Linked DNA regions of Homo sapiens: region 2 is linked to region 1. The links come from fine-mapping of genetic effects on gene expression. A gene starts in region 1. The other region holds a variant in brackets. All regions are shown on one strand. Distances are between the middles of the regions.

The links. PIP is the estimated chance that this variant, and not a neighbour inherited with it, causes the effect.
Region 2: its variant is fine-mapped to the expression of AASDHPPT in whole blood (INTERVAL, PIP above 0.99).

Annotation. Positions count from the first base shown.
Region 1 is chr11:106,069,145-106,084,788 of GRCh38, forward strand. It overlaps AASDHPPT (aminoadipate-semialdehyde dehydrogenase-phosphopantetheinyl transferase), which reads left to right and starts at 8,518. Exons shown (of 6, transcript NM_015423.3): 1 at 8,518-8,749; 2 at 10,323-10,548. The coding sequence starts at 8,567. It overlaps KBTBD3 (kelch repeat and BTB domain containing 3), which reads right to left and starts at 8,203. Exons shown (of 4, transcript NM_198439.3): 1 at 8,168-8,203; 2 at 7,363-7,563. RefSeq lists enhancers at 7,996-8,115, 8,126-8,235, 8,546-8,785.
Region 2 is chr11:106,101,474-106,117,117 of GRCh38, forward strand. LINC02719 (long intergenic non-protein coding RNA 2719) reads right to left here. Exons shown (of 3, transcript NR_135099.1): 3 at 10,986-11,150. Among named protein-coding and RNA genes, the nearest start is that of LINC02719, 23 kb to the right of the region's middle. The variant C/CA (reference allele first, on the strand shown) is at 7,841.

The sequences.
Region 1 (15,644 bases):
CAGCAAGGATGTCCACCCTTACCACTGCTATTCATCATAGTTCACACTTATTTAGAAGTATATTATTCAGTTTCCAAGTGCATGTAAGCTCTAGCAAGCACACTAAAACAAGAAAATTCAATAAAAGGCATATACATCGGAAAGGAAGAAACAAAACTGCCTCTATTTGCAAATTCCAAGATAGTCCATGTAGAAACTCCAAAGGAATCTACCAGAAAAAAACCTCATAGAACGAATCAGCAAGTTCAGCAATGCCACAGGACACAAGAGCATCACACGAAAATCAATCATATTTCTATATACCAGCAATAAACACATAGAAACAAAAATTAAAACAAAAACAAAAATTAAAAGTATAATAGTTCAAAAAAAAAAGAAGTGAAAGAAATACTTACGTATAAATCTAACAAAACATGCACAGGACTTGTATGCTGAAAAATATAAAATGCTAAAAAAAAAAATAAAAGAAGACTAAAATGGAAAGACATGCCATGTCTGCAAATTGGAAAAGTCAACTTAATAAAGATGTCCCCTTAATTTCCTCCAAACTGATATAAAGGTTTAACACATTTTTTATCAAAATCCTGGCACAATTTTTTGTATATACAGATGAGATTACTGTAAAATTTATATGTAATGATAAAGAAAATAGAATATCTAATACAACCAAAAAGAATAATAATGAGGGAAGTATCAGTCTACCTGATTTCAAGACTTACTATAGCTATGGTAATCAATACTGTGTAATATTAGTGAAAGGAGAGACACATAGATCAGTGGAATGCAATACACAATTGAGAAGTAGCCCCATACAGTACAGCCAAGTGACTTTTGACAAAGGTACAAATGCAATTCAATGGAAGAAAAAGAATCTTTTTTAACAAAAAATGCTGAAGAAAATGGATATCCACAGGCAACAAAAAAATGAACCTTGACCTATACTTCATACTTTATGTAAAAATTAACTCAAAACGGTCATAGATTTAAATGTAAAATATAAAACTTTTAGAGGCAAATACAGAAGAAAATCCTTGCAACCAGGGTCTCATTAATGAGCTCTTAGACATCAAAAGCATAACACATAAATGAAAAAAATTAATAGATTGGATTTTATATCAAAATTATATTTTTCCTCTGTGAAAGTCCCTTTATTTAAGAGGATGAAAAGACAAGCTATGAGCCAGGAAAAAAATATTTGCAAACTGAATCTAATAAAGAAATAATCTATAAAGAAATCTGAAAACTTACCAGTAAAAACACCAGACAATTCAATTTAAAAAATGCGCAAAAGGCACAAAGAGATATTTCACCAAAGAGAATATACAGATGGCAAATAAGCACATGAAAAGATGTTCAACATCATTAGTCATTATGGAAATGGAAATTAAGACTGCAATAAATATCCCTAACCATCTATCAAAATAGCTAAAATAAAATATAATGACAACACCAAATGCTTGAGGGCTTGCAGAGACACTGGATCACCCATACATTGCTGGTGGAAATAGTTTGGCAGTTTCTTAAAAAAACTAAACATACACATACCATATTACCCAAGAATCATGCTGCTGACCATTAGAAATAAAAGCTTGTGTGTGTGCAATAGCCTCTACATGTTTCATAATGCTTCATTTGTATAGCCAAAAGCTGAGGACAACCAAAATGTTGCACAATAGGTGAAAGAGTAAACAAATCATGGTACATCCATACCGTGGAATACTACTCGCCATTAAAAATGGATGAAGTGTTGATACACATAATTTAGATAGGTTACAGGAATCTACACGTGAGAAAATTACAAGAAACTACACACACACATTGTACTAATGTCAAATTCCTGGTTTTGATCTTTTACTAGAATTATGTATGCACCCATATGGGGAAACAGGGTGAAGGGTACATGGAAACTCTATCTTTACAACTTCTTGTGTAATTATTTTAAGATATTAAAAGATAACAAAAGATCAATCAATTCAGAAACTATTTTGATGTTCCAGCTTTCTTCTTGCTCAAAACATAGAAAATGCAAATAAAACATAATTATTTAATTGGTATAAAATCATTCCTCTGTATTGTAAAATAAGTCGGAAATAAAACAGTAAAAAGGTGACTAAAGGAGATACTTCCAAAAGAATAAAAACTGTATTTCTGCATAGTGGCATAGGTCCTGAGAATATCAATTTTTAAAACTCTAACCACAAACACTTTTTAATTAACTTTACTGTCATGAAAATCATGTATGTAATTTAGATCTTGTGTTGGATTAAGTCAATTATTGAGCCTCATGGTTCATGAATAAGTGGACCACATGATGTAAACACAAAGTTATTTTTATTTCTATAAATAGTAACAAAAACAAGTTTTACTTGAAAATTTCAACTATCCTAAAATAATATAAAGAATCACAGATAGCTATTCACTTTTATAACACTGTTTTTAAAAAAAGTCTGCCATGTATATTCTATACAGAATGACAAATCTAAGGAGCTGAAAATTTCTATTTCTTAAATTTCATTTGAGTAAATCCTACTTGTATAAGTGTATTTTGCAAATAACAAAGAATATGACATTTGCAACTAGAGAAATAGTCCTAAATGGTTCATCACTTATTAGTGACTCCTACTTAGGCTCTCTGAGGCTTTGGCTTCCTCATCTGCAAAGTGGACACACCTATGACACTGGACTGTTGTGAGACTTAAATGATACAATGAATATTAAGTTAATATCGTCAAATTATATGTAAATATTAATGATTAAAATCAATAACATTATTAACAGTTAAACAATTCTCAATTCTTGGCAAAAGATTTATAAGGCAATTATTTTTCTTCAAATATTCTTCAAATTCAATTATGCTATTTCATTGATTTTAAGACACAAATTTTTTCACACTTATCTGAAACTGACAGGCATCTTAAAATCACTCTGGTTGGGTAGTAGTCATGACATATTTGTCATTACATGTGTATTAAATTTGAAGAATGGATATCAGTGTGTTGGAAGAAAACCTTGGAGATAATAATGGACATTGATTTAAGAAATGATATATCACTAATGCTCTAAACAGAGAATGATATTATGAAAATAAAACATGGACACAGAGACTCTGAGTTGAAAATCAATGAAAAGACACTTTGAATGTTAAGAAGTTTTAGGAATGCCTCAGCCAATGAATTTTGCTCATATTGTTCTTTGTATGTAGGTGCAAGGGTGTTATATGATTTTTTTAAAAGGGGGCTCTTTGCATGAGTAGAAAAAATTCTTAGTGATAAAGAGTTGTGCCATAGTTGGCATTTTTTTTCTTAGTAGTATATAAAATAGTGTACTTTTAAGATTACACCCCAGCTTCAATGAAACACCTTCCTGCCCAAAACACTGACTCAATTTTTAAAATGATTGTTATTCTTTTTTTTAAAAGCCTTCCATTAAAATTTGATTTAAAGAATTGAATGAATAAAGGTAGAAGAGTCAAGCCTAAGAACCAAGCCTTTGATAAAAAGTAATGACAAAAATCATATGCCACTTGATAAAAGCAGAACGTTAAACTAAAGCTGTGCTCTGCCTGATCTGGGCTTTGATTTCACTGGGTCCTACAGTGATCTTAGTTTCGTCACTGATGTTTCAATATACAGCATGATTTCTGGCCTATTTTAGTAAATATTTATTATAGATGCTAAGTATATGACAAGCACCGAATTAGGCACTAGAGATATAAAGAGAATAAAAGACAGACATGGTCCCTGCTTTTTCCTTGTCCAGTATCTGGTGAAAATGACATAATAAATAAAGTAGGCAAATAAATAATTATACATTTTTATAAGTACTGTGAAGACACAAGTAGGAAGTGGAAATAAAAATGAACAATGGGGCATTCAATTTCAGACAATAACAAAAGGGGTAACAGGGAACACTTATACAGTGCTTATAATGTGCCATGCTTTGTACTATATTTTTTGTTTGTTTTTTTGAGACAGGGTCTTGCTGTGTCACCCAGGATGGACTGCAGTGGCAAGATCACAGCTCACTGAAGCCTCAACCTCCTGGGCTCAAGCAGTCCTCCCACTTCATCCTCCTGAGTAGCTGGGATTTACAGGCGTGCATTAGCACACTCAGCTTTTTTTTTTTTTTTTTTTTTAATTTAGAGATGGGATCTCACTATGTTACCCAAGTTGGTCTCAAACTCCTGGCCTTAAGTGATCCTCATGCCTCAGCCTCCCAAAGTGCTGTTGACTACAGGCATGAGCCACCATGCCTGGTCCCATGCTATATGTTTTACACATACTCTTTTAATCTTCAAAAAAAAAACTGGATAAAGGAGATACTTATCTTCATTTTACAAACAGAGAAAACAGGCTTTGATAATTTAAGTAATTTGGCTAAGATCATATAGCAAGTAAGCAGGGAGTTGGTATGTGAACTCAGTTTGGCTCAAGAGCCCTTGCTTTCAGCCACTACAATATTAGGGAAAGCCTTTCTGAAGTGTCATTTGAGAATTGAATGATAAGAAGGTAAGGGGTTGGTGGAAGAAATCACATATAAAGCCCTACAGGGGTAAAGGAGTCCTTCAGTTTTAGGAAATTAAAGGCGGCCAGTGTGGCTGGAGTAGTTAATGAAAGGAAGAGGGTTAGGAGATAGGGCTGCAGAAGGCAGTTGCTACCTCAGTCAGGATGCTATGGGTCACAGGAGCTGGGATTTTATTCTAAGTGAAATAGGAACGACTGATTACTTTAAATTGGACAGTGACATGACATCATTTTTTTAAAAAATATTTTTCTAGCTAATATGTCAAGAATGAATTGAAAGGAGGTAAGAGAAGTAGGGTCCAAGTCATTCATTTATTCAACAAATATTAGACAGTTTATGGAGTAACAAATATTGTGGCAGGTACTATTCTAGATACTAGAAATACAGCGAAAAACAACATAGACAAGGTCCTCTACCCTGGAGTCTACTTTAGAATGCCGAACACCCCCCCCCACACACATACCCCTTCCTTCTCATACATTAAGAGCTTCTCCCACCCTACTAGACATTTTCCATTAGCATGCAAATTCTAGTATCTTCCATCTTTAAACAAACATCAAACAAAAATCTGTCCTTTGACCTTTTATTCCCTCTAGCTACCATTCCATTTTTCTACTTCCTAAATCCAGAAAAACTTCTTTAAAGGACACTCTGTGGTAGCATCACCTCCAGTTATCGTCTCAACCCACTACAATAAAATTCCTTTCTTTTACTCCATTAAAACTGCCCTTGTCAATGTCACCACACTACCATCTTGAAGGTAAATTCTCACTTCTCTCTCCTCATCTTATTTCACCTCTTAGGATAATTCACACTGTTAACTAGTCCTTGAAACACTCGTCTTTTAGTTTCTGTGCCACAACATTCTTCAGGTTTCCTACCTTGCTGGCCTCTCCTTCTCAGTCTAATTAGAGGGCAATGTAACATAAGAATTAAGGGCATAGATTTCTAGATTTAGCTCTGAAAGCAAGTTGTGCTTATGGCATAGAAGACATTGGAAGAGAGTGCTCCCCTTTCTCAGGCAGGCTAGAAAACTGATTAGTATTTCAGATGAAAAATGATGGTGGGTTATACTAGATTGTTAACAGTGGGAATAAAGAGAAATAAATGGATTTTTCTGTATTTTAGAAATAGAGCCAAAAACACTTGGAGATGGATTGGATATAGGGAGTCAAAGAAGAGCAGCATCATGGTTTCTTCCTTGAGAAACTGGTAGAATTATGGAGCTATTCAAATAAGTCTTGGGGGAAAAAAGAAGGGTTTGAGGTAGAATAAAGTTTGTGACCCAATAAAAAGTTAGTGAGTATATCTAAAAAACACCTAGACTTAGAGATGATCTCATCCGATGCCTTTCCATTGAAATTAATACATGGAAGAGGTTATGTCACACATAGGATCCTGTGTGACCAATGTCACACAGACAATTGGTGGTAGAGCTGGAAATAGAATACGAGTCCCTCAGAATCCTGCTAAGAAGCCACAGATCAGCACCAAGCAAGATGATCATTACAGACTGAGTGAGCCCCTATTACTTTAGTCCTCTTCTTCCCCTGACCAATGCAGTAAAAAATATTTTAATAAAATTGTTGGGTTCATTTAATATAGTTAAGCAAGTTATGAACTGCATATTTATATTTCCTTAATAAAAGTGAGGGAAGTAAAGGCAGATAGAATATAAAAAGCAGTGTTACCCTTGACAGTAATAAATCTATTGTGGAGTCATTAATAACATTTACTCATGTATACTATTTGTAAAAGGTATACATGACATTCCCTCTCAAGTACTGTACATTCTATTTTGCAAGATAACACACATGAAAATAATTCAGGACAATAGGAGAGACGTCATAAGGCAATACTAGAATAACTGCCAAATGAATTACATAAACAATACTGTTTTGGAAAAAGGTACTCTGAAGTAGGCCCTAAGAGAAGGTTTAAGCTAAGCTCTGGAGAATTTGTAAAACCACACAGGGAAGGGGATTAAACAAACCTATAAAATATGTTCACAGGGTGATAGGTTTGGGGCTGAGGTTTGGAAGTGGAGAGAGTAAGCTATTTTAGACTAGGTGAACAGAGACATTCTGTTTGGTATGAGATTTGGGCCTGAATGATACAGAGGAAACAAGGAATGTGATAATGGGAGAAGGGGAGAATATTCTAGATTCTAGACCAAGTACAAATAATCCCTACGTTACTGTCTGTGTATTAGGCTCCATAGATCTAATACACAGAGATCTTGCTCGATGGTAAAATAATGGGATATGAATTCCTGAATTTAAACAAATTCTCTTTCTGAGCTCATTGTCTCCATCAGTAATAACTAGTGCACAGAACATGTGCAATAACGTACACAGAAGTGTTTTGGAAACAGAAACGTAATGTATCAAAGTTATAAAAATCAGTTTAAAACGACAAGAAGGAAAGGTTATATGATTCTTAGTTAAAAATGGAGAAGTGAGTTATGATCATTGCTGATATGGGTATTAGTATCACTTACGTATCTTTACACTGTCTCTTATTGTACTTTTTATGCGTATGATTTATTTGCCTTACCAGATTGTAAGCTCCCTGCAGCTGGTAAGCAGATTTTCAACATGGCAGCTGACACAGGCTTTTGGTTAGCTAAGATGATATATTAAGCCAATAATTCGTTTTACTGTCCTTTGGGGATCTGAATTTGTGTGTGTGTGTGCTCAGAATCCCATCTACTTTCGAGGGATTCGGGGGGCTTATGATATCACGAAAAGTTAATGAAGACAAGTATAGATAAAAACATAATAGAACCCATCTTAAATAGGACAGAAATCATAGGCAGGTAATTGTGTTAATTACTACCGCTGGCCTTTGGCTGATATTTCCGGGCAGTCAGAGGAAGAAGGAAATCGGCTGAATCCCGCAGTACCGCACTTTAATCGACCTCCAGGTAGTCATTTACAGTCATCTGCAGAGACCAACTTTTCCCTGGACCAAAACCTGCAGGGCACTTGGATCGCGTGGGCTTTCATACGAGAGTCAACAACAGCCTACACGGAACAACTAAGGAAACAGACATACATCAATATGACCCTTCGCAAAGTCTGAGAAAATAACTGAGCAAAGTTATTTACTTGTTTCTGTTGCTGTTAGAGCAAGGACCTCTGTCATGATGGAAACACTGATACCTCAACAATGGAATCCTGTTTTCTCGCTAGTGCTCTAGCCCAGGCTTGGCAATAGCAAAACAGCACCTGGGTCGCTTCATCGCCCCAAATAAACAGCCAGCATTAGCTCAGCTGCTCGCTGGCAGCCTCGGATCCAGGCGGGGTCAGTGTTGCGCACTGGGGATAGTGCCTCTGCTCGGCCTTCGGAGGGAGGGTTTCAGGTAGGCTGCTGCTAAGGGTCGGGAGCGTACTGTGTGAGGGTGGGTCTTAGGCTGATGCGGATGGGGGCAGGGAAAGAAGGAACTCAGGGCTGATGCGTTGCACAACTGCAGGGGGCACCACTGCAGACCCCCTCCTAGAGATGGAAACCTCTCGTGCCCCGTACACGAAGCAGCTGAAGCCAAGGACATTCTCTTCTCTGTGGGTCACAGGGGCCAACTCAGACCCTGAGAATAAGGGCTACCATCCCACTCCTCCCTCAGACCCCGGAGCTCACCCACCTGCAACTGCAGTCTCCGAAGTCTCCACCCCAGTCTCCCTGCCTCCAGAGGACTGGTTGCGATTGGCCTGCACCGCTGTCCCGTTAACTCTTCCGCAAGTGTGAGTGGCGTAACTGTCGGGCTCTTGGCCTTGGTCCCGCCCTTCGCTCGCCTCCGAAGCCTCGCCTACTTGACGTCATACAATGCCGCAAAGCGCAGGGCTGATCTCCGTCTCCGCCCCCAGCTGCTTTCTCCGAGAGGAGGTGGCTGAGTCGGGGGCGGGCTGGGAGGGCTGTCGGTGGGCCAGTCTGCGTAGCGACGGCCCGTCCCCTGCGCACGGACGCCGGGAAGAAGGGGGTGGGGCCACGTTTGCGTCCGCGCCATCAGGCCCGAGATAGCGGCGAGGTCCGCTTTCAGTGTATGGTTTTCCCTGCCAAACGGTTCTGCTTGGTGCCATCCATGGAGGGCGTGCGCTGGGCCTTTTCCTGCGGCACTTGGCTGCCGAGCCGAGCCGAATGGCTGCTGGCAGTGCGATCGATTCAGCCCGAGGAGAAGGAGCGCATTGGCCAGTTCGTCTTTGCCCGGGACGCTAAGGCAGCCATGGTACTACAGGTCTTTTTTGGTATTTAGAGCCTAGGAAGCAGATCTTGGGGGAGGCGGGCCGGGCTGTGGAGACCCGACACTCCCGCGCTGGCCGCGACCCTCTCGCTGTGGAGCCTGTGGCCGGCCCGGGCGACAGCAGCCGGCGCTGCGGAGTTGTGGGCGACGCACGGCCTGGTTTCCACGGCCTTTGTAACCGCCTTGGAGGCCGCGATGGCTGTAAACATTATCTCTTTCCCCTTGTTATTTCAAATGGAGACCCTCCTAAACCATGAAATAAGTGTAGGGAAGGCCGACAAAATTGGGTTTTTCTGTAATGAATGTTTTTATGTCTTTATCTTTAAATGTTATTTTTTTTTGTTTGTGTGCGTTCATAGCCTATGCTTATTCTGCCTGTTAAATATCCCATCATTCTCCAAGGACTCCCTGCACGTGGTAGGCCCTAGAAATTATTGACAGTATGATTTAGTTTGTAGCCCTGCGCTCCCCGGGATTGAAGCCAATGAAATTGAAGCCAGAGAGGATACCTTCCTCACTAGATGCCATGGGAAACAGTATTTTACGTAGATTTATTTATTTTAGCTATGTATTTTGAAGCAACAAATGGAAAACTGGATTTCAAAACAAGTAATCTGTACAATATGGTGCAATTTGAAACAACCGTGAATTACCATCATTTAAAAGACAGTCCTTTCTTAAAAATGTCCCATATTGAAACACTTTCTGTTTGAAATGTAGACTAGTTGATAATTTTTAAGGCACATTGGTGAAAATTTTTTACTCATTTGTAAGGAATTGTAAAATAAGCTACATTTAAAAGCCTGCAGTTTTTAAAAGTCAGTGTTAGAATTGAAGAAGAAAAAAACCTGAAAGATATTTTTAAAAATATATACTTTGTCATCTTATATTCTTGTTTTTTTGTGTGTGTGTTTTTAGTAATTATTTAAAAAATAATAATTGGAGGTGGGAGAGAGCAGAACAAGATAGGTCATGCCTTGCTAATTGTTGAAGCTGGGTGATCAATATATGGGATCTAGAAATACATATGCACAGATGTAGGTACAGTAGGGTTGCTCACTGCAGAGTTGTTTTTGACAGCAAGTCTAGAGCCAGCCTAAAATGTCCAATAAAGGGGAAATAATATTATGAAATATGCTACAGTTAAAACTGCATGGACCAGACGTGTGTGTACAGACATAAAATACTTCCCAATACTTATAAATTTAAAGCTTATATGTGGTAGAATACTGCATAAGTATAATCTCATGTTTGTGTTTATATGTAGAGTTAGCAAAAACATGTAAATGCACATATATTTAAATACAGAAAAGACTGACAGGATGCCAGCTGTTAACTTTGGTCACTAGCAAAGGAGAGGGAATTGCTAAGGCGGGCTTTAACTTTTTATCTACTTAAGCATTGCTTAAGTCTTAATTAACGTGTGTTTAATACTTAAGTATTTTGAAAAGTTTTAAAAATGAAAATTTTAGAAACCAAAAAAAAGTACTATTGCATACAGTGTGCTTGTATCTTTAGTAGACATCAGTACATACCAAATGTTTTATGTACTTAACAGGCTGGTCGTCTGATGATAAGGAAATTAGTTGCAGAGAAATTGAATATCCCTTGGAATCATATTCGTTTGCAAAGAACTGCAAAAGGAAAACCAGTTCTTGCAAAGGACTCATCGAATCCTTACCCGAATTTCAACTTTAACATCTCTCATCAAGGAGACTATGCAGTGCTTGCTGCTGAACCTGAGCTGCAAGTTGGAATTGATATAATGAAGACTAGTTTTCCAGGTAACGTTGCATTTTTCTAGTATGGCAGTTAAGTGTCTCGATGCCTCAGTTCTATTGCTATTGAGTAATCTCAGGCCAGGAGATGTATTAGAGATATTTCAGTTTAGGGAAAATGTGCTTAGTACACAAAGGTAATGGAGAGCATAAATCTGAAAAGGGTATATTTCCATGAATATTTACAGACTTACACATAAATAATAGATTATCCGTTACTGGGGATCCATAACTTTGCCTAGAGGTAAAGTGAAATATTAAGTGAAATTTTTTTTGAATTATACTTCAATTTATTTCACTTAAACATTAACCACAATTTTTCAGTTAATTGTTTGTTTTTTAAAAAAGAATCTGAATAGTAAAGTACATTGTAGTCCTTATGTAGAGATAACGTATACAGTTGACACATGAACAACACAAGTTTGAACTGCATGGGTCTACTCATGTGAATTTTTTTCAGTAGTTGGCCCTCTGTCCCCATAGATTCTGCATCCACAATCAAACGTGTATCAAGATTCAGTATTTGCAGGATATGAAACCTGAGGATGTGGAGGGCTGACTTCATATATGCAGGTTCCATAGGGCCGCATGCGCAGATTTTGGTATCTGAGGAGGGTCCTGGAACCAGTCCCCAGTGGATACCAACGGGCGACTCTTTGTTCTGCATCTAAATACATCTCTTTTTAGCCCATTTATGTAAGTAAAAATGAGGAGCAAGCATTATTAAAATATTTAAGTTGCTTATATATTGCCTTAGAAATTTGTTAGTGGTGGCTTTAAGGACCACTAACATTTGTGGTGAAGTTGAATGTACCCAGGCAATTTAATACATACTAAATACAGGTTCTCTTAACTGCTGTATATTTGTCATCATCACTAACATTTAATGAACACTTAACCACGTGTCATGGCATTTTACATAGTGCTTTAGACATATTCTGTGATTTAATTCTCTCAACTACCCTATGATGCATATACTGCTATTTTTAAAGAAAATAAGTAACAGGCTAAGAAGAAAGCTATTAATAAAAGAACCCACATCTTCCTAATTTCATAGTAAAACTATCTAATCTCCATACTGCCTGCACCATATGTGGTTTGAATATGTGGCTCTCTCAGTCTGTAAGGCTTGTATTAATTTTATCTCTCACTCCCATTTCTGCATAGAGAACTCCTATTTACTTGTTAGATTTCACCTTAACCTTACTTTAGGGAAGCTTTGTGAGCCTTCAATCTAAGCTAGGTTCTTTTGTTGTAGGTTCTCATAAAATATATTTTCCTTATTCCAGTAATGTATCTCAGTTGATTATTCATCAGGATGATTGATTATCTTTTCCTGATACTTAAAAGCTGTGTGAGAGCAAGAACCATGTTAGCCACATCAGAGTTTGATCACTATCACATCTCTTAGTACCTTGCCTAGCATGTAATAGTAAAATATTTGTCAAATGAATGAATAAACACTGTGCTGTTAGAGTATAGGCTTCAGTGTGGTTGTGAATCTCTTCTCCCTTTTGCTTTTATTGTCCTTACCTTGCATTTTCCTACTAGCTACTCTTTCTCTTACCTGCTAATAAACCTTTCCAGTACAACTCTATTCTCAGGTTTGTTCAGAACAAGGCCCTACTAGTGATTTTGGAAACCTTATAACAGATTGTTGATCTGATTCCCTGGATAAGATTCCAGGAATTTTGTTTACCTCCTGAAACTGTATGCTACATTTTGTATGATATGCACATGTGCATTTTTCTTGGGAAAGGATCTGGTATTCAACAGGGACATAGGTGGCTTACTCTAAAAAAATTGCTGCTATAGAGGATTCTTAGCATGGGAATTAGCCCATATATTCTTGTAGCTTTCTGCTGTCATTACAGGAACTTTTTCTAAAATCAGAAATGGAAAGGCCATTGTTTTTTAGAATGCAGTCAGCACAACTACCTGGTAATAATTGGCCCAGTGGGTTGGTATCTGCTTGGAAATGATACTTCTGAGAAACAGATTTTGTTACCAGTTAACTTGATGGGCAGTGTTGGCTATGGTCAATGCTAGATAAACAAGTAATTAATAACTGAAGCTTTTAATAAATGATGGTGTTCTCACTCATAGATGGGAATTGAACAATGAGAACACATGGACACAGGAAGGGGAACATCACACTCTGGGGACTGTTGTGGGTGGGGGAAGGGGGGAGGGATAGCATTAGGAGATACACCTAATGCTAAATGATGAGTTAATGGGTGCAGCACACCAGCATGGCACATGTATACATATGTAACTAACCTGCACATTGTGCACATGTACCCTAGAACTTAAAGTATAATAATAATAATAATAAAAAAGAAAAATAAATGATGGAAAGACAATTGAGCAAAAATTTAAGATTTAGTTTTCCTGTTAATTGTGTTATTAGACCTCCCCCCACCAGTTTTTTTTAGTTGATCTTACTTGACTAATCACAATGTCTAGGCCTTTTCCTTTTCTTTATTTTGTTGTGAAAAAGCTGTTGCTATGTCCAGTAACACAGAAAGGAAGAGAGATTTTCCAATTGTCACTAGTGTTGTTACCATGCTACTGATTCCTGAAGCATCAATGGACACAGCATGATTTCTTAATGAAGATGGGAAGTAGACACTGATTTGCTTCATTGGAGATTCTTTGAATTGCTCTACTTATTGTAGTAAGTGAGGAGATTGAGCAAGGGATTTTTCCTAAGAGTCTTGCTAAATGATGCTAGGCAAAACTTAGGAGAGCAGCAAGGAAAGTACTCTGTTTTGTACTAGGCATTGTTACTAGATTGCCAACTCTAAAGACAGAGTTGGCTTTTGGGGGTTATCATTAGTGCATTGAAAGAGTCAATTCCATTACTCTGTCTTGTCCTATAGGTAAGAATCCACTAGGAACTCAGAGAGTCTTTTTCTTTCATGGTGCATTAACCATTTCTGCTGAGTGCAGCTCATTTCCCTCCCTCTACCTGTTCTCCCAACTGTTGCTGTGGACGTGCAGGAGAGAACATACCTAGTATATAGCCTACCATATGCCAGGACGGTACATTCTTACTCTTAGGAAGAATGGTGTTTTCCTGGTCTTCATCTTAATTTATTACCCTCTTTTGGAAAATTTTGGTTGGTTTTCCCTTTGTTTTCTAATTTTTTCTACCATTAAAAGTGTTTGAAGTGATAAGCATAAAGGGTAACTTTTGAATTGTTTAGTTTTGTGACCATATTTACAAAGTAAGGCAAAATAAAATAGACAAAATACATAAAAATTATGATTGAAATTTGGGAAAGGACCAGAATTTTCCCCCTATGGTTTTACATGTTCGTCTTTACATTTTTAAAATAAACTTTGCTGGACTTTTTTTTTTAAATGCACTTGGGATTTAAAACCTGTAAGTAGTTTTAGAAACTCACACATCACTTTGTACTCTGAATTCCTTACTGGAAAACCAAGTCTCCACCCTCAAGGAGTTTTCCTCCTTCCCAGTTACAGGTCGGTCTTTTTCCTTTGTCAGTAGGATTTGATTGTGTAACTAGTATTTATTGAGCAATTCCTACAAGTGTGTGACACTATATTAGATGCCTAATAGGTATTATTTCATCTTTGTAAGACTAGTGCGTAAGTACTACTGTTATTTTATATAAAAGGTTAAGACATTTGTCCAAGTTGACTTAGCTAAAAAGTAAAACTTCATATATTTAACCACTGCTCTCTACAGTATATGGCCTCTCAGTATGAGATTTTATTGATTCCTATTAAAAGAATTTGCAGATACCAAAATATGAAAAATTCTGTGAAACTGGGTTACATACATTTAAAGTTGTTATGGAAGAACTAATGACTAGGAATATGAAAAATATAGTAAGGGTCTTGCCTTACCAGTTTCAAAAACTTGTGTTAGTCATTGTAAACTAAAAAGAGTATGGTACTAGCGAAAGAATAGACAACTGGAAGAGTTAATCTTAGAGCCCAGGATATATACATATTTCAATTCAGTGGATAAAAGATTATTTATTAAATGGTGCTGGTAGAATTGGTTAGTCATGTGGATGTAACACATACTATATACACCAATTTGGAGGAATTAGAAATTTAAAAATAAAAAAGTTTAAAATTTTAGGACAAAATATAGTTGACTATGATGTCGAGTTGCAGTAAATCTTTTTATGAATTCTTTTCAAACGAGACAGAGTTCAGAATTTATCAAAGAATGGATATTTAAATTTAAAAAAATTATATTCCAAAAATATAACCAAATACAAAAGATAAATAATAGAATAAGGAAAATTCTTATAACAAATTTGGTAAGGTGTCAATATCCATAATATATAAAGAGCTTCTATGAAGTGATTAGAAAATATTAATAGGCACGTTACAGAAGAACAAATTCAAGCAGTCAGTAAGCTATTACCTTAATGATTAGAGTAATGCAAATTAAAGTAACAGTGAGGTGCCCATCAGATTTGCAGAAAATTGGAAAAAAAACACTTAGAGCTTGTGAAAATGTCGGAAAAGAACAATCATATAGATGGAAACACTAGAAATTGCTACAGGCTTTTTGGAAAATAATGTTAAAATTGAAAATACACATAGTCTTTGATTTAGCGATCTTGTTTATAGTACTCTATCCAAAATATTTATGAATAACAACAAAACCTGAATGCTGCTAATAGAAATTGGTTAAATAAATTAATGGTGGATGCATTCTGCAGATAATTATTAGCTGTAATAAAAGAATTAGTTAGGTCTATATGAACCTGAAGGGACTTAGAATATATATATATTTAATATTATAATAGAGACAGGGTTTCTCCATGTTGCCTAGGCTAGTATTGAACTCCTGGGCTCAAGTGATCTGCCTGCCTCAGCCTCCCAAGTGCTAGGATTACAGGCGTGAGGTGTGAGCCACTGTGCCCAGCCAATATCACATCATAGAAAAATATATATAGCAGAATCTTTTTTTTTTTTGAGACAGAGTCTGGCTCTGTCGCCCAGGCTGGAGTACATTGGTGCTTGGCTCACTGCAAGCTCTGCCTCCTGGGTTCAAGCAATTCTTTTGCCTCAGCCTCCAGTGTAGCTGGGATTCCAGGCACCCGCCACCTGGT
Region 2 (15,644 bases), 32 kb after region 1:
GTTGTTCTTTTCCCCTCTAAATCCACTATCTTTCACCCTTCACTACCGCAGGAAGCTGACTTCTATGTACCTTGTTGGCCAGGCTGTCTTTTCCTTGATCGGGTTTTGCAAATAGAGGTGGGGGAGGGTATTAGCAGAGGACTAGGTAGAAAGGGAAATAGGATGATTATCCACTTGCCTTCCTGCCCTGCAGTGGCTTGGAAATAGCTGTGTTCCTCAGCATCACAGCTTCTGACATAGCCTTCTCCATATATACATCTCATGGGTTCAGGAACAACTTTTCCCTGCCTTTTCATTTTAGAAGTAGAAAGATCTTGCTCTTGCTTAGCCTAAGCTGCTGCACCATCTCCATAGATTTTTGTTATTCTTGCCTACACCCTCTTTGATCATTACTTTTGGTTGTGCCATCTGTTTCCTGCTACAACCCTGACTAATACAGTAATTTGTACCATGAGTAGTCCTGGGAAAGTGGAATTCTGGAATTGGATTGCTCACATATTTGATGTATATACAAATAACTTCCTTGTCAGGGAAAATGGATGCTTATCATTGGTGGCAAGTGGTGATGTCACAATTGCTTACATCATTACTAGTAATGTCATGGAGTCATGGAATACAAGTGGAGTACAGTGTTGGAAGATCAAGGGGCTGTGGCACATAGTCACTATGGTCATGGTAGAGATTACAGAGATCGTTAGGAGGACTGGCTCTTTTGAATGTCTAGAGCATATACACAGGGGAAAGGACAAATTGAAAGCAAAGGGAAAAATTGGGAAAAAAACAAAGCATCACAAAATCTATGGCAACTCTAGGGGAATATCTTGTATTTTGTAGATATAGCTAAGACTCAAACCTAGAGCTTTTATTGTAAGGGCTGCTGAGTTGTAATACCAATTACTGGCCAGTACTGGGTCTCACATGCTAAGGTAAGGGCATTGGTATGGAAGAAGTGGGGCCTTCAGAAATGAGATGGGAACATTTGGATCGCCACAGGAAAGGCTGAGAAGCTTAAGCCTTTTACATTTCCCTGAAACTTTCCTACTGGCAGAGGCAGCCCCATTTGTCTGAGGGGGAAGTCTTACCTCCTGATACAGTTTCAGATGTCATGTTGAATTCTAATCCCCAATGTTGGAAGTGGGGCCTGGTGGGAGGTGACTGAATCATGGGGGCAGATTTCTAATGAATGGTTTATCACCATCATCTTGGTGCTGTCTTTGTGATAGTGAGTTCTCGTGAGACCTGGTTGTTGTAAAGCAGGTGGCACCTCCCCCTCACTCTCTCACTTGCTTCTGCTTTCTGCCTACTCCCCCTTCACTTTCCTCCATGAGTGTAAGCTTCCTGAGGCCTCCCTAGAAGCTAGGCAGATGCCAGCATCATGCTCCGTGTAAAGCCTGCAGAACCATAAGCCAATTAAACTTTTTTCTTTATAAATTGCGCAGTCTCAAGTGTTTCTTTATAACAACACAAGAATAGCCCAGTACGCATCTCCACTTGCCCTGCAAAGGAAAAACAGTGTATCAATGAATTCACCTGAGATGGTTCTCTCATAAGCAGGTATCAGTTAACCTCAGGATTTACATCCACTATCCATCTTTACTTTTTGGAAAATAACAAATACCCTAAACAGAGAAGTATAAGATCAGGTCCGGAGGAAGGGCCTATTCAGAAGAGTTGCAGAATATTGCCACTTTGCATTGTAGGGATTTGGAGGACAGAATAGGAGTGGATTCTAAGGGTATTTGACCAAAAGGGGTTACATCAGATAAGGCAGGCATACTCACAGAAAATGTGAGTTAATGTGTTGGCCTGAGAATCTGGGAATGGTGATAAGTCTGTCACATTGGTTAACTAAAACCTAAACTCAGTGGTGGCCTACAGTCAACTGTGTTGAAATGTTAGAACTTTCCTGACTGAAAGAGTCCAGAGTCTTAGGAAGACAGGAATGCGGATCTGTTCTTTGCTAATCTGCTCATTCATCCTCTGAGGGATGGGCTTAGAAGACCATCACTTCACCAAGGATGTTTTTTTAAATCCATTAGTAAAGGAGTACCTTGAAAAGCCTTGTGGTATCATCTCTGTAGATCAAAGATGCTGCAGTGAATTTAGGTTACTTGTTTTCAATGGGAATAATGCGATTCCAGAATTGTTGAGATCATGAGATGGTACTTGAGAGTAATAATCAAAGGGTCTTGTGCCACAGGGGTTTCTGGTGATGGTTCATTGATCACAGGGTCTCTAGGAGTAGATTAAATGGGCAGCCTGCAAGGATCTGTTTGACACATTAACAGAAAATTTCTAGGTCTGGTGGACAGACACTTGACTGAAATCACTGTGAGGATGATCCACTGCTGCTTTAATTTTTTAAAGAACTTAGCCATTTTATAGACTTAGGATCTCTTAATGAAGGGGGTAGCTAGATCCTTTTGACAAAGAATCCTGCAATGCAGTCACAAGTATACAAGAGAAATCTTCTCCCAATCTTTTCTAGGGACACCTGTGTCCATTTACCATGGTGATTTTTCACCGGGGAAAGAGAAATACGAAGAACTTCTGGGGCCTGTTAGATACTGGTTCTGAATTGATAATAGTGAGCCCAAACTGCGTCTGTGTTGCCTTGTCAAAGTGGAAGCTATAGACATCAGGGAAAATGCAGTCTTGGCCTGAGTCCATCTCATAATGTGGTTATTTCCCCAGTTTCACTTGAATAGTGGAATAAATACACGGTTGTCTCTCAGTATCTGTGGGGGTTGGTTGCAGGACCCCCCTCAGATACAAAATCCATGGGTGCTTAAGACCCTTATATAATGGCATAGTATTTGCACATCCTAAGCCCATCCTCTCAGCTACTTGAAATCCTCTCTAGATCACTTACAATACGTAATTATTGTTGTACTCTATTGTTTTCCTAATGTATATTATTTTTATTGTTGTATTGTGTTTTAAATTTTGAACAGTTGTTGGCTGAATCCACAGTTGCGACCCCTACAGATAGAGAGGGCCAACTGTACTTACTAATTTGCAGGTGCCCCACATTGGTTCCTTTCCCTGCGAGGTGAAAATTGTGGTAGCAAGGACCAAGTGGAAGCCCCTAGAACCGCTCATCCCTGCCTCCAGCTAAGGCAGTAAGCCAAGTAATACTGCATCCCTAAAGGAACTGCAGAGATTAGTGCCACAATCAGACACTTGAAAGATGTAGAGGGGTGATGTGGATGTTTTCACTCCAAACTTCCTAATTTTCCCTGGCCTGGGAGTGGCATGGATGCTGTTCTTGTTCCTTAGGTACACTGTCAGACAATTCTCCTTCCTTCCTCACATCATCAATCTATGCCACCCACCATCTCTTAGTGCAGTCATCTCTTCATCCAGTGTTACTTGCCCACATCCCCATTGAGCTTACCTGTTTGGCTAAGGCAAAATATTAGTCTTGGGAAATGACTGTAGATTATTGAAATTTAATCAGATAGTGATGTCAATTTTGGGTGTTGTTACTGGAACAAGTCAACACAACCCATGGGACCTCAAATGAAATTGTTCACTTAGCAAATGCTTTCTTTTTAATTCCTATCAGCAAAGAAACTCAAAAGCAATATATCTTCATATGACAGAGACAGCAGTCACTGTTTTGTAGCTCTCGGGTTCTCTATCACAATGTAGTCAAGAGGGGCCTTGATCCATTACACTGATAGCATTCTGTTTTCTGGTGACCTTGGTGGTAAGACACATGCATGCCAGAAGATAGGAGATAAATGCTGTAAAAGTTCAGAGGCTTGACATAGGGAATAAAGGAATATTCCCTCTAAAATGAAAGGGGTTGCATCGTTTTGCACCAAACACAATAAATAGAGCAGCATAATGCTTGATGAGCTTCTATGAATTTTTGAAGGCAAAATAACTATGTCTGATCTGTTGCTATAATCCACTTACCTGGTAGCTCCTAAGGCTGCCTGTTTGGAGGGGAGCCATGTATCTGTGAAAATTCTGTCAGGCCAATGGAGGCACTACAAATGTAACAGGTAATTTTACCTCTGACCACTGCTTACCTTTATGTTAGTTCTTCCTCATCCTCTCAAATCATTGAACATTCCAAATCTTGGTCCTCATAGCTCATCACTTTTCTATTAATACTTATTCCCTTGGTGATCTCATTCATTCTCAAGCTTCAAGTACTATCCATATGCTGATGCCTCCCAAATATTTAATGTCTGTCCACACCTCTCAAGACCTCTTACCTGCCTCCAGTCTCAGATTTCCAGATGCCTACACATGTCCTCTTGATATCCACTGGTAGCTTGCACATAATACGTTTGAAAGTAAGTTCTTACTAGGCATTCCCCACCCCTTCTTACCCAAACCTCTACCATCCCTGGGATCATTTGTCCCTCTGTCCTTCTGTCTTCCTCCATCTCAGTATATGGGATCTTCATCCTTCCAGCCACTTGGACTCAAATCCATGGAATCATCCTCTTTTCTCTCCTACTCCACACATATGCTTCTTTCTTATACACAGTACTTGAGTACTTCTTTCAACACACAATACTTGAGCAAAACTGTCAGTTCAACCTTCAAACCACACCCAGAGTTGGACCACTCTTCACCATCTCCGCCGCTCCTCACCTGGTCCAGGCCACCACTGCCTCACCTGGGTGATTGCCACGGTCTCCCCAATGGACTCCCTACTTCCAGTCTTTCCCCCTTCAGTATATTCTCCGCATTGCAGCCATCTCCCTCACAGTAAAAGCCAGAGTCTTTCTAACAAGCATAGTAGCCTACATGATCTGGCCTCTGTTGCTCCCTACTGTACTATTCTCTTTCTCATTCTCATTTCCTACTCTTATTCTCACTTCCTATTAGGTCGGTGCAAAAGCAATTGCAGTTTCAGACCGTGAATTTTAAATCATTATAACTAAGCTCAGACACATCTTTATTAATCAAAGTAGGAACCATTACAATCAACACAGTTTTGCCAGTGAGAAATAAGTTTATTCCTGTAGCATAAAAATCCATGCTTCAGGATTTGACAAACTCTTGGAAAGAATTTTCTGCATCCTGCTGGTTCTGGGAGCGTTTTCCCTGCAAAAAGTGGTGGTTGGTTGGCAAGAGCTCAGGTGAATATGGCAGATGAGGCAAAATTTCATAGCCCAATTTGTTCAACTTTTGAAGCATTGGTTATGCGATGGGCAGTCAGGCGTTGTTGTGAAGAAGAATTGAGCCTTTTCTGTGGGCCGATGCTGGCTGCAGGAGTTGCAGTTTTCGATGCATCTCATCGATTTGCTGGGCATAATTCTCAGATGTAATGGTTCTGCAGGATTCAGAAAGTTGTAGTGGATCAGATGGGCAAGAGACCACCAAACAGTGACCGGGACCTTTTTGTTTTGCAAGTTTGGCTTTGGGAAGTGTTTTGGAGCTTCTTGTTGATCCAGCCACTGAGCTGGTCATCACCAGTTAACATATAAAATCCACTTTTCGTCTCACATCACAATCCGATCAAGAAACGGTTTGTTGTTTTTGCGTAAAATAAGAGAAGACACTTTTAAAAACTTTTTATTTTCAGTTAGCTCATGAGGCACCCACTTACTGAGATTTTTCACCTTTCCAATTTTCTTCAAATGCTGAATGACTGTAGCATGGTCGACGTTGAGTTCTTCGGCAACTTCTTGTGGAGTTTTAAGAGGGTTCGATGGTTGCTCTCAATTGGTCGTTGTCAACTTCCAATGGCTGGCCGGTACACTCCTCATCTTCAAGGCTCTCGTCTCCTTTGCAAAACTTCTTGAACCACCACTGCACTGTACATTCATTAGCAGTTCCTGGGCCATATGTGTTGCTGATATTGCGAGTTGTCTTTGCTGCTTTACAACCCATTTTGAACTCGAATAAGAAAACGCTCGAATTTGCTCTTTGTCTAACATCGTTTCCACAGTCTAAAATAAACATAAATAAACAGCAAGTAATAAGTCATTAGCAAAAAAAAAAGCGAGAAATGCCCGTTAAAATGATATATAACATAACTACATTTATTTAAGAATATATTCCAATATCAACAGCGCAAAAACCACAATTACTTTTGCACTCAACTAATACTATTCTCCCTATCTTCACTTTACTGCAACCACACTGGAATCCTCCCTGTTCCTTGAATATACTAGGCACAGTCCTACTTCAGGTCTCTACATTTGCTGTCCCTTTGTCTGGAATGTTCTTCTCCCAGATACTCGCATTGTTCACCCCTTACTTCCATCAGATCTTTATTTGACAGTCATCTCCTTAGTGACTACCCCCGGACACTCTAAAATTGTACATCATTCTGTTTCCCATCCCCAACACTCCAGATCTAGGTTCTCTGCTTTATTTTCCCTGTGGGGCTTAACCACAATCAAACGCACCATACATTTTAGTGTCTTCATTATTGTATGTCTCAGCTCCAGTCCTTGCCAGACTATAAGATCCAAGGAAGACAGGGATTTAAACTAGTTTTGTTTACTCCTATTTCCCCATGGTCTTATAACAGTGCCTAGCTCATATAAAGGCTCAATAACTATTTGTTGAATGAATGAATGCTGTGGTTTTGTTTTAGTTGTCTAGGGCTACCATAACAAAGTACCACAGACTATGTGGCTTAAACAGAAATTTATCTCCTCACAGTCCCGAAGGGCTAGAAGTCTGAGATTAGGGTGTCAGTAGGGTCGGTTTCTTCTGAGACCTCTCTCCTTGGTTTGTAGATGACCCTCCTCTCCCCCTCTCCCTGTGTTTCTGCATGGTCTTTATGTTGATCTGTGTCTTCATCTCTTCTTACGAGGACACCAGTCATATTAGATTAGTGCCCACCCTAATGACATCATTTAACCCTAATTACCCCTTAATTATCTTATGTCCAAATACTGGCACATTCTGAGATACTAGGGATTAGGACTTCAACATATGAATTTGGGGTGACAAAATTCATCCCACAACATGTCTCTACCCCTATGACATAATTATTCACTTTCTCAGATGGATTATTTATTTCCCCATTCTCTCTATTTGCTCACATAATGCTAATCTCTTTCTTTCTTTGCCAATATTCCAATTTTCAAGTACAGTCATGCGTTGCTTAATGATAGGGCTATATTATGAGAAATGTGTCCATTAGGTGATTTCATTATTGTGTGAACATTATAGAATATACTTACACGAACCTAGATGGTACAGCCTACTACACACCTAGGCTATATGGTAGAGGCTATTGCTCCCAGGCTACAAATCTGAACAACATATTACTGTACTGAATACTGTAGGCAATTATAACATAATGGTAAGTATTTATGTATATAAACATATCTATACGTAGAAAAAGTACAGTTAAAATATGGTATAAAAGACTAAAAGTGGTATGCCATTTTTAATGGTACACATTGTATAGGGCAATTACCATGAATAGAGATTACAGGGCTGGAAGTTGCCCTGGGTGCATCAGTGAGAGAGTAGTGAGTCAATGTGGAGTCCTAGGACCTTACTATCCACTACTGCAGATGTTATCAACACTATACACCTCGGCTACACTAACACTATAAGAAATATTTTTCCGGCCGGGCGCGGTGGCTCACGCCTGTAATCCCAGCACTTTGGGAGGCCGAGGCGGGCGGATCACGAGGTCAGGAGATCGAGACCATCCCGGCTAAAACGGTGAAACCCCGTCTCTACTAAAAAATACAAAAAATAGCCGGGCGTGGTGGCGGGCACCTGTAGTCCCAGCTACTTGGGAGGCTGAGGCAGGAGAATGGCGTGAACCCGGGAGGCGGAGCTTGCAGTGAGCCGAGGTCCCGCCACTGCGCTCCAGCCTGGGCGACAGAGCGAGACTCCGTCT[C/CA]AAAAAAAAAAAAAAAGAAATATTTTTCCTTCTTCAATAATAAATTAACTTTAGCTTAGTATAGCTTTTAAACTTTATAGACTTTTATGTTTTAAACATTTTTACTCTTTTGTAACAAAACTTAAAACACACACATCGTATGCTCTACAAAAATATTTTCTGTTTGTATCCTTATTCTATAAGCTTTTCTCTATTTTTGAAATTGGGACTTTTTTTTACTTTTTGTTAAAATCTAAGTCGCAATGCACACACATTAGTTTGGGCCTGTACAGATTCAGGACCATCAATGTCACTGTCTTCCACCTCCACATCTTGTCCCACTGGAAGGTCTTCAGGGGCAATAACATACAAGGATCTGTCATCTCCTGATAACAATGCCTTCTGGAATATCTCCTAAAGGGCTTGCCTGAGGCTGTTTCACAGAAGTAGAAGGAGTAAATTTTAAAATAACAATTAAATGTATACTATAGTAAATACACAACCCAGTAACAGTCATTTGTTATCATTATCAAGTATTCTGTACTGAACATACTTGTATGCACTAGACTTTCATACAACCGGCAGTGTTGCAGGTTTGTTTACACCAGCATCACCACAAACACGCGAATAATACATGGTGCTGTGAAGTTACAACAGCTATTATGCCACTAGGCAATAGGAATGTTTCAGCCCCATTATAATCTTATGAGGCCACTATTGTATATGTGGTCTATCATTGACCAAAATGTCATAATCTGCTACATTACTGTATATATTTCTATATTTATTTGTATAAAATCTCTGTCTTCCTTCCACCTTTGGACTCTTAAGTTCCAGGCATTCTGTTAACACTTGACTAATATTCTTAATTTAAACATCATAGCCACACTACAAAGTAAGCACCGTTACTTGTATTTCAAGAATGTAAAATCTGAGGCCCAAGGAAATTAGACAATTTTTCAGAGGTCATATTAACTCATAAATGATGTCATTCTGATTTTAATTTAGTTTCCACAGACTCAAAAGCACATTCTTTTATATCTATACCACATTGTCATCAAGATGAATGGTGAAAATCATACTTCTGCCTTATATGTTGTGAGTGAAGCTGCCCTTGAAGGAAGTCTCCTGTTTCAGGAAATGAGATTAAGTTTAGATTCTGAATAATTATCCCCATAAATTGAATTTGGATGTTATATTTATATTTTTTACTACTGCAATTTGTATAGTCCTTGATGATCATTTAAATTTATTCTGCACAATTTAACAATTAAAAAATATTAAAAGTTGTTTCCTTATGAAAGTGTCAGAATTACACAATGAATTAATAATGTTGAAGCAACGGCTATAATTTTATACTAAAATGTAAAGGAAAAAGCCATTGCTTTTGTTTTTTTTGTTTGTTTGTTTTTTGTTTGTTTGTTTATTTCATTGCTTTTGTTAAAACAGTGTAACATATGTTCTTGATAAAAATGCCAGGGCTTTATTGGTGAAAACCGTAGTAGGCTTTGAAAGCCAGTTACTTATAATTAAGTGAATATCATTGTCTCTTTGGGTGTAGATGATTGTTTAAAATAGAAATTTTTTTATTGATTTTATATTTTAGAAAGAGCTTTGCTTTAAAATATATATCATGTTGGCAATGAAAAACTTAATTCCAGTGGATACCAGTTGTGAAATCATTAAGTTGATAAAAAAATAGCTGTCCATAATTTTGATATACAAATAGAAATACTATAGGTCATAGTGCAACTACTTATAACTGTTGAACTCTGGTTTTTATTTTGCATTTCCAAACAAACTGTTGCTCAGAGTTTGTGGATGATGATCTAGTGGCCATTTAATGGTAGTTTTTAAATTGGTGTCAAGAGGTGGAAGGGCAGAGATGGTGCTTTCATTGACTCTTAAGTATAAGGAAAATGTTACTGGTTTTTTATTTCTGTGTATATGAAGCTCCTAAAAATAAAAGGTTAGAGCATTTTATCCAAATAAATATCTTTTCAGAGCATATGAACACTGTGAAGGAGCTAAAGACTTAGATAATAATCAATACCTGTGAAATCTGATATTAATTTAGGGATTTAAAATAGACCTGTAGACAGTGAAACATTTGCAGTGAATGATAATTGAAACAAAGAAATACTCTGAATTTTCAAGTATAAATTCCTGTTGTTTTCCTAGGAACCCCTCATATATAAATGAGTGCAGTTGGTCATGAAGTTGACTGAAAACATTAATCACTTAGTAACACGGAAGAGGTAAGCATAATCTGATGAAATTCGGTTTATATCATTGTTGGAGACCTATTTTATTTAACAATCAAAGAATTAATATGAGCCAAGCTCAGTGGTGCACATCTGTAGTCCCAGCTACTCTGGAGACTGAGGCAGGAGAATCCCTTGAGCCCAGGAGTTAGAGGCCAACCTGGACAATATATCAAGACACTCTCAGAAAAAAAAAATTTAATTTGAGGTATTTTTCTTTTATTTGAATATTCAAGATAAAGCTGTGCATCTTGAAACATATGAATTAAAGCCATTTTAAAGCTGAGATAGGCTAGAAAAGCCTTATCCTGGAATCTTAATAAAGGTAGTCATTTGAGAAAGAAAAGTGTAGATGAATAAATACAATCCCTTGAGGACAATATTCATGTGGAAAAGAATTTCCAGATTTGTAAAAAATAATGGCATGTAATTTTGCGTTAAGGACACAGCATTCCTGCATTTGTATTTGCAGAAATCAGTGTTCAAATATCAAATACATCATTTGTCAAAATTGCCTTTTGCAAAACTGACATCCTTTCAACTTTGGGCATGATTAATTTACTAAGGGAAAAAATACTTACTTCTCCCTGGACTTTAACCACATTTGTATTTAGAATTATCATTAAAAATGGTATTTCTCAAAAAAAGTTGACAGGTCAAGATAGATATACTCATGTAGCTATCAAATAGAAAACTGTTCCCAAAGCAATTATTTCAATTTTATAGAAAAAAATGACATTTTCATTCCTAGTTTACTTATGTTTTATCCCAGTCACTTGTATTTCATACTACTTTTAGGGTATGTGTGAAACGTGCAGTATTTGATCACTTAAAAGCCTAATTTAGGAGGCATCAGCCAGAAACAGGTGCAATATATTGCGTCCAAAGTAATTGTGCAGATTTTTCATCATGAGAAATGGTTGCTTTATTTCAAATAGATTTTCTTTCCTCTTTTCTCTATTTCTTACATGCCATGTTGTAAGAGAATATTTTCTTTCTGCTGACCTTGAGGCAGGGCAAGAACAAACTTTTCTTTCAGAGCACAAGAGTTCATTTATGTGAGGTACCTAGGAAAATTAAGAAAGCCAGTTAGATAAGCTTAATGGGAACTCATGATGGGTTCAGATTTTTCAACATTTCTTTAGGAAACTTTTTATTTGCCAGTTTCGTTTTACAGGGTGAACTATATGTCCTGATTCTAAGAAGACATTATAGGTACCAACACATGGTCTGTATATCCACCAATACAATTTTCAGTCTGTCCTGTTCATACTTTCCAGAACTGTCTTTCTTGCAAACCAAATTAAATTGTGCCATTGTCTTCCCTGAAAAACAGGGTTTTAGCTCTCTCTTATCCTGTAGGTTCAAGTATAAAGTCCTTAATATGGCTTACAACACTCCAGTTACAAACCTCCTCCAAATCTTCACTTCTCAACTTTATTTCACTATTCCACTCCTTAGGTATACTTGCTCCTCATTGACTTTCAGACCCCTAAATCCATTTACCCTCTGCCTTTTCTGTACTTGTCCTTCCCAGCTGATTGCTCTCATTTCAATTCATGACCCAATATTAAATGGTTTGTAGTGCTGCCCCACAATCATTCCTGGTCCACTCACCCAGATAACTTTTCCATACTTTCCCTTCTCTTCTTCAATTTCTAATACATTCTCCATCTTTGCTTTTTGCTGATTACCTTGCTTCCTATTCCACTGAAAAAGCAGATGTCTCGGAAGAGAATTTCCCCAAGCTTCCTCCATCACATCCACCCACCTTGCTACATCTGTGCCCAGGCAGTGTGCCTTCCCTCCTGCCACTAGAGAGGAATGTCCACACTCCTGTCTAAGCCCAGCCCCTTGATTTGGACACTAGATTCATTCCCTCTACTCCGGATGGTACTTTGGAAAATCTCACCTCTTTGGCACATCAATTTCCCGTCAATTATGGCATCATTCCCAGAAACATAAACATGTTGTTACTTTTCTCATCTTAAAAAGAAATCCTCTCCTTTTTTCACCAAACTGATGCTTTTTTAAAAAGAGAAAGAGAGAAGAAAGAGAGAAAGAGAGAGAGAAAGAAAAAGAGAGAGATAGAAGAAGAAAGAGAAAGAGAGAGAAAGAAAGAGAGAGAAAGAAAGAGAGAGAGAAAGAAAGAAAGGAAAGAAAGAAAGAAAAAGAGAAAAGAAAGAAAAGAAAGAAAGAATCCTCTTTCACTCCATCCTTCCCTCTTGGATACTGTACCATATTTCAGTTTCCCTTTTCTGCAAAAACTGGAGATGACTTCATCATCTACAGTTCTTCTTATCTATTATAATAATTCTAAAACCAACTCAAATCAGGCCTCATTGACCACTGATACTTCTTTTTTCAAAGTCACCAAAGACTTCCATGTTGCTAAGTCCTTTGGGCAGTTCTCAGTCCTCATCTTACTTGACCTATCAGCAGCATTTAACTCACTGTAAATGCTTTCTTTTTTGATACAGCATCTTCACTTTTAGGATACTACTTCAAGTTTTTTTTTTTCTCATTGGTCAGTTTTTCTCAGTCTCCTTTGCTAATTCCATTTATCTCCCCAAACCCTAAATGTTGGCAGGTCCTAGATCCAGTCCTCAGATCTCTACTCTTTCTACACTCATTCTCTTTAAATACATTTATACATTGATTATCACCAAATCTATGTCTCTGGTCCAGAGCTCTCCCCTGAACTCTAGGCTCATATATCTCTCTATTTGACATCTTCACTTGGACGTCTAAAAAGTATCTCAAATACATTATGTCCCAAAATGAAATCTTCATTTCCTTAAAATCTGTTAATTCCACAGTTATGTCTCCATGGTAAAAATAAATTCTATTTTTTCAGATGCTTGAGTTAAAAATCTTGGAGTTTCCTTTACTCTTCCCTTTCTTGCATACCCCACCCTCACATCCAATCTGTCAGCAAGTACTGTTGGCCTTTTATTTGAAATATATCTAAATCAGACCACTTTTCATCACCTCGACAATTACCACTGTGGTCCAAGCCACCATCATTCTTCATCTAGAATGTTGCGACAGCCTTGTCAGTTGTTTCCTTATTTTTGCCTCTCTAACTCACTATTTTATTTTTTAATACATAAACCAGAATGCTTTTTTTTTCTTTTTTAACTTAGGTCTGATTATCTGATTCCTCCACTTAAAAAGCTCCGTGGTCTTCCAACTCTGTTATATTAAAAACCAAGATCATGCCCTTGCTCATCAGAAAAATAAAAAAAGGCCCCAACCCAAGGTCATTACCATGAGCCTAGTGTGCCTAATTGGATTTTGGAGGCAACACATTCCTCATTTGGGTGTGTTACTCCAGCCCATTTATCGAATGACCCAAAAAGCTGCCAGTTTTGAGTGGGGTCTAGAACAGGAGAAGTCTCTGCAACAGGTCCAGGCTGCTGTGCAAGCTGCTCTGCCACTTGGGCTATATGACATAGCAGAGCCAATGGTGCTTGAGGTGCCAGTGGCAGATAGGGATGCTGTTTGTAGCCTTTGGCAGGCCCCCATAGGTGAATCATAGCAGAGGCCTCTAGGATTCTGGAGCAAGGCCCTGCCATCATCTTCTGCAGGTAACTACTCTCCTTTTGAGAGACAGCTCTTGGCCTGTTACTGGGCTTTGGTAGAAACTGAACGTTTGACTATGGGTCATCAAGTCACCATGCAACCTGAACTGCCTATCATGAACTGAGTGCTTTCTGACACATCTGGTCATAAAGCGGGATGTGCATGGTAGCATTCCATCATCAAATGAAAGTGGCATGTACGTGATTGGGCTTGAGCAGGTCCTGAGGGCACAAGTAAGTTACATGAGGAAGTGGCTCAAATGCCCATGGTCCCCAATCCTGCCACCCTGCCTTCTCCCCACTAGCCTACACCAGTGGCCTCATGGGGAGTTCCCAATGCTGAGGTGACAGATGAAGAGAAGACTAGGGCCTGGTTCGCAGATGGTTCTGCATGATATGCGGGCACCACCTGAAGTGGACAGCTGCAGCACTACAGCCCCTTTCTAGGACATCCCTGAAGGACAGCAGTGAAGGGAAATCTTCCCATTGGGCAGAACTTCGAGCAGCGAACCTCATTGTGCACTTTGCATGGAAGGAGAAACGGCCAGATGTGTGATGATATGCTGATTCAAGGACTGTAGCCAATGGTTTGGCTGGATGGTCAGGGACTTGGAAGAAGCATGATTGGAAAATTGGTGACAAAGAAATTTGGGGAAGAGGTATGTGGATGGGCCTCTCTAAGTGGTCAAAAACTGTGAAGATATTTGTGTCTCCTGTGGGTGCTCACCAAAGGGTGACCTCAGCAAAGGGGGATTTTAATAAAGTGGATAGGATGACTCATTCTATGGACACTACTCAGCCTCTTTCCCCATCCACCCCTGTCAACACCCAATAGGCCCATGAACAAAGTGGCCTTGGTGGCAGGGATGGACGTTACACATGGGCTCAGCAACATGAACTTCCACTCACCAAAGCTGACCTGGCTACAACCACTGCTGAGTGCCCAATTTGCCAGCAGCAGAGAACAACGCTGAGTCCTCAGTGTGTCACCATTCCTCAGGGTGATCAGCCAGCTACTTGGTGGCAAGTTAACAACATGAAATGATTATATTGGACCTCTTCTATCATGGAAAGGACAGTGGTTTGTCCTAACTGGAATAGACAGTTGCTCTAGATATAGCTTTGCCTATCCTGCATTCTATGCTTCTGCCAAGACTACCATTCATGGACTCATGGAATGCCTTATCCACCATCATGGTGTTTCACATGGCATTGCCTCTGACCAAGGCACTCACTTTATGGCTAAAGAAGTACAGCAGTGAGCTCATGCTCATGGAATTCACTGGTCTTACTCCATTCCCCATCATTCTGAAGCAGGATGATAGAATGGTGGAATGGCCTTTTGAAATTACAACGCCAACTAGGTGACAATATTTTGCAGGGCTGGGACAAAGTTCTCCAGAAGGCTTTGTATGCTCTGAATCAGCATCCAATATACAGTACTGTTTCTCCTATAGCCAGGATTCACAGGTCCAGGAATCAAGGGGTGGAAGCAGAAGTGGCACCGCTCACCATCACTTCTAGTGACCCACTAGCAAAATTTTTGCTTCCTGTTCCCACAACATCACATTCTACTGGCCTAGAGGTCTTAGTTGCATTGGGAGGAACGCTGCCACCAGGAGACACAACACTGATTCCATTAAGCTAGAAGTTAAAATTGCCACCTGGCCACTTTGGGCTCCTTCTACCTCTGTCAACAGGCTAAGAAGGGAGTTACAGTGTTGGCTGAGGTGATTGACCCAGACTATCAAAATGATATCAGTCTTCTACTCCACAATGGAGGTGAAGAAGAGTATGCGTGGAATACAGGAGATCCCTTACGGTACCTCTTAGTGTTACCATGACCTGTGATTAAGGTCAATGGGAAACAACAACAACCCAATCCAGGCAGGACTGCAAATGGCCCCAGACCCTTCAGGAATGAAGGTTTGGTTCACTCCACCAGGTAAAAAGCCATGACCTGCTGAGGTGCTTGCG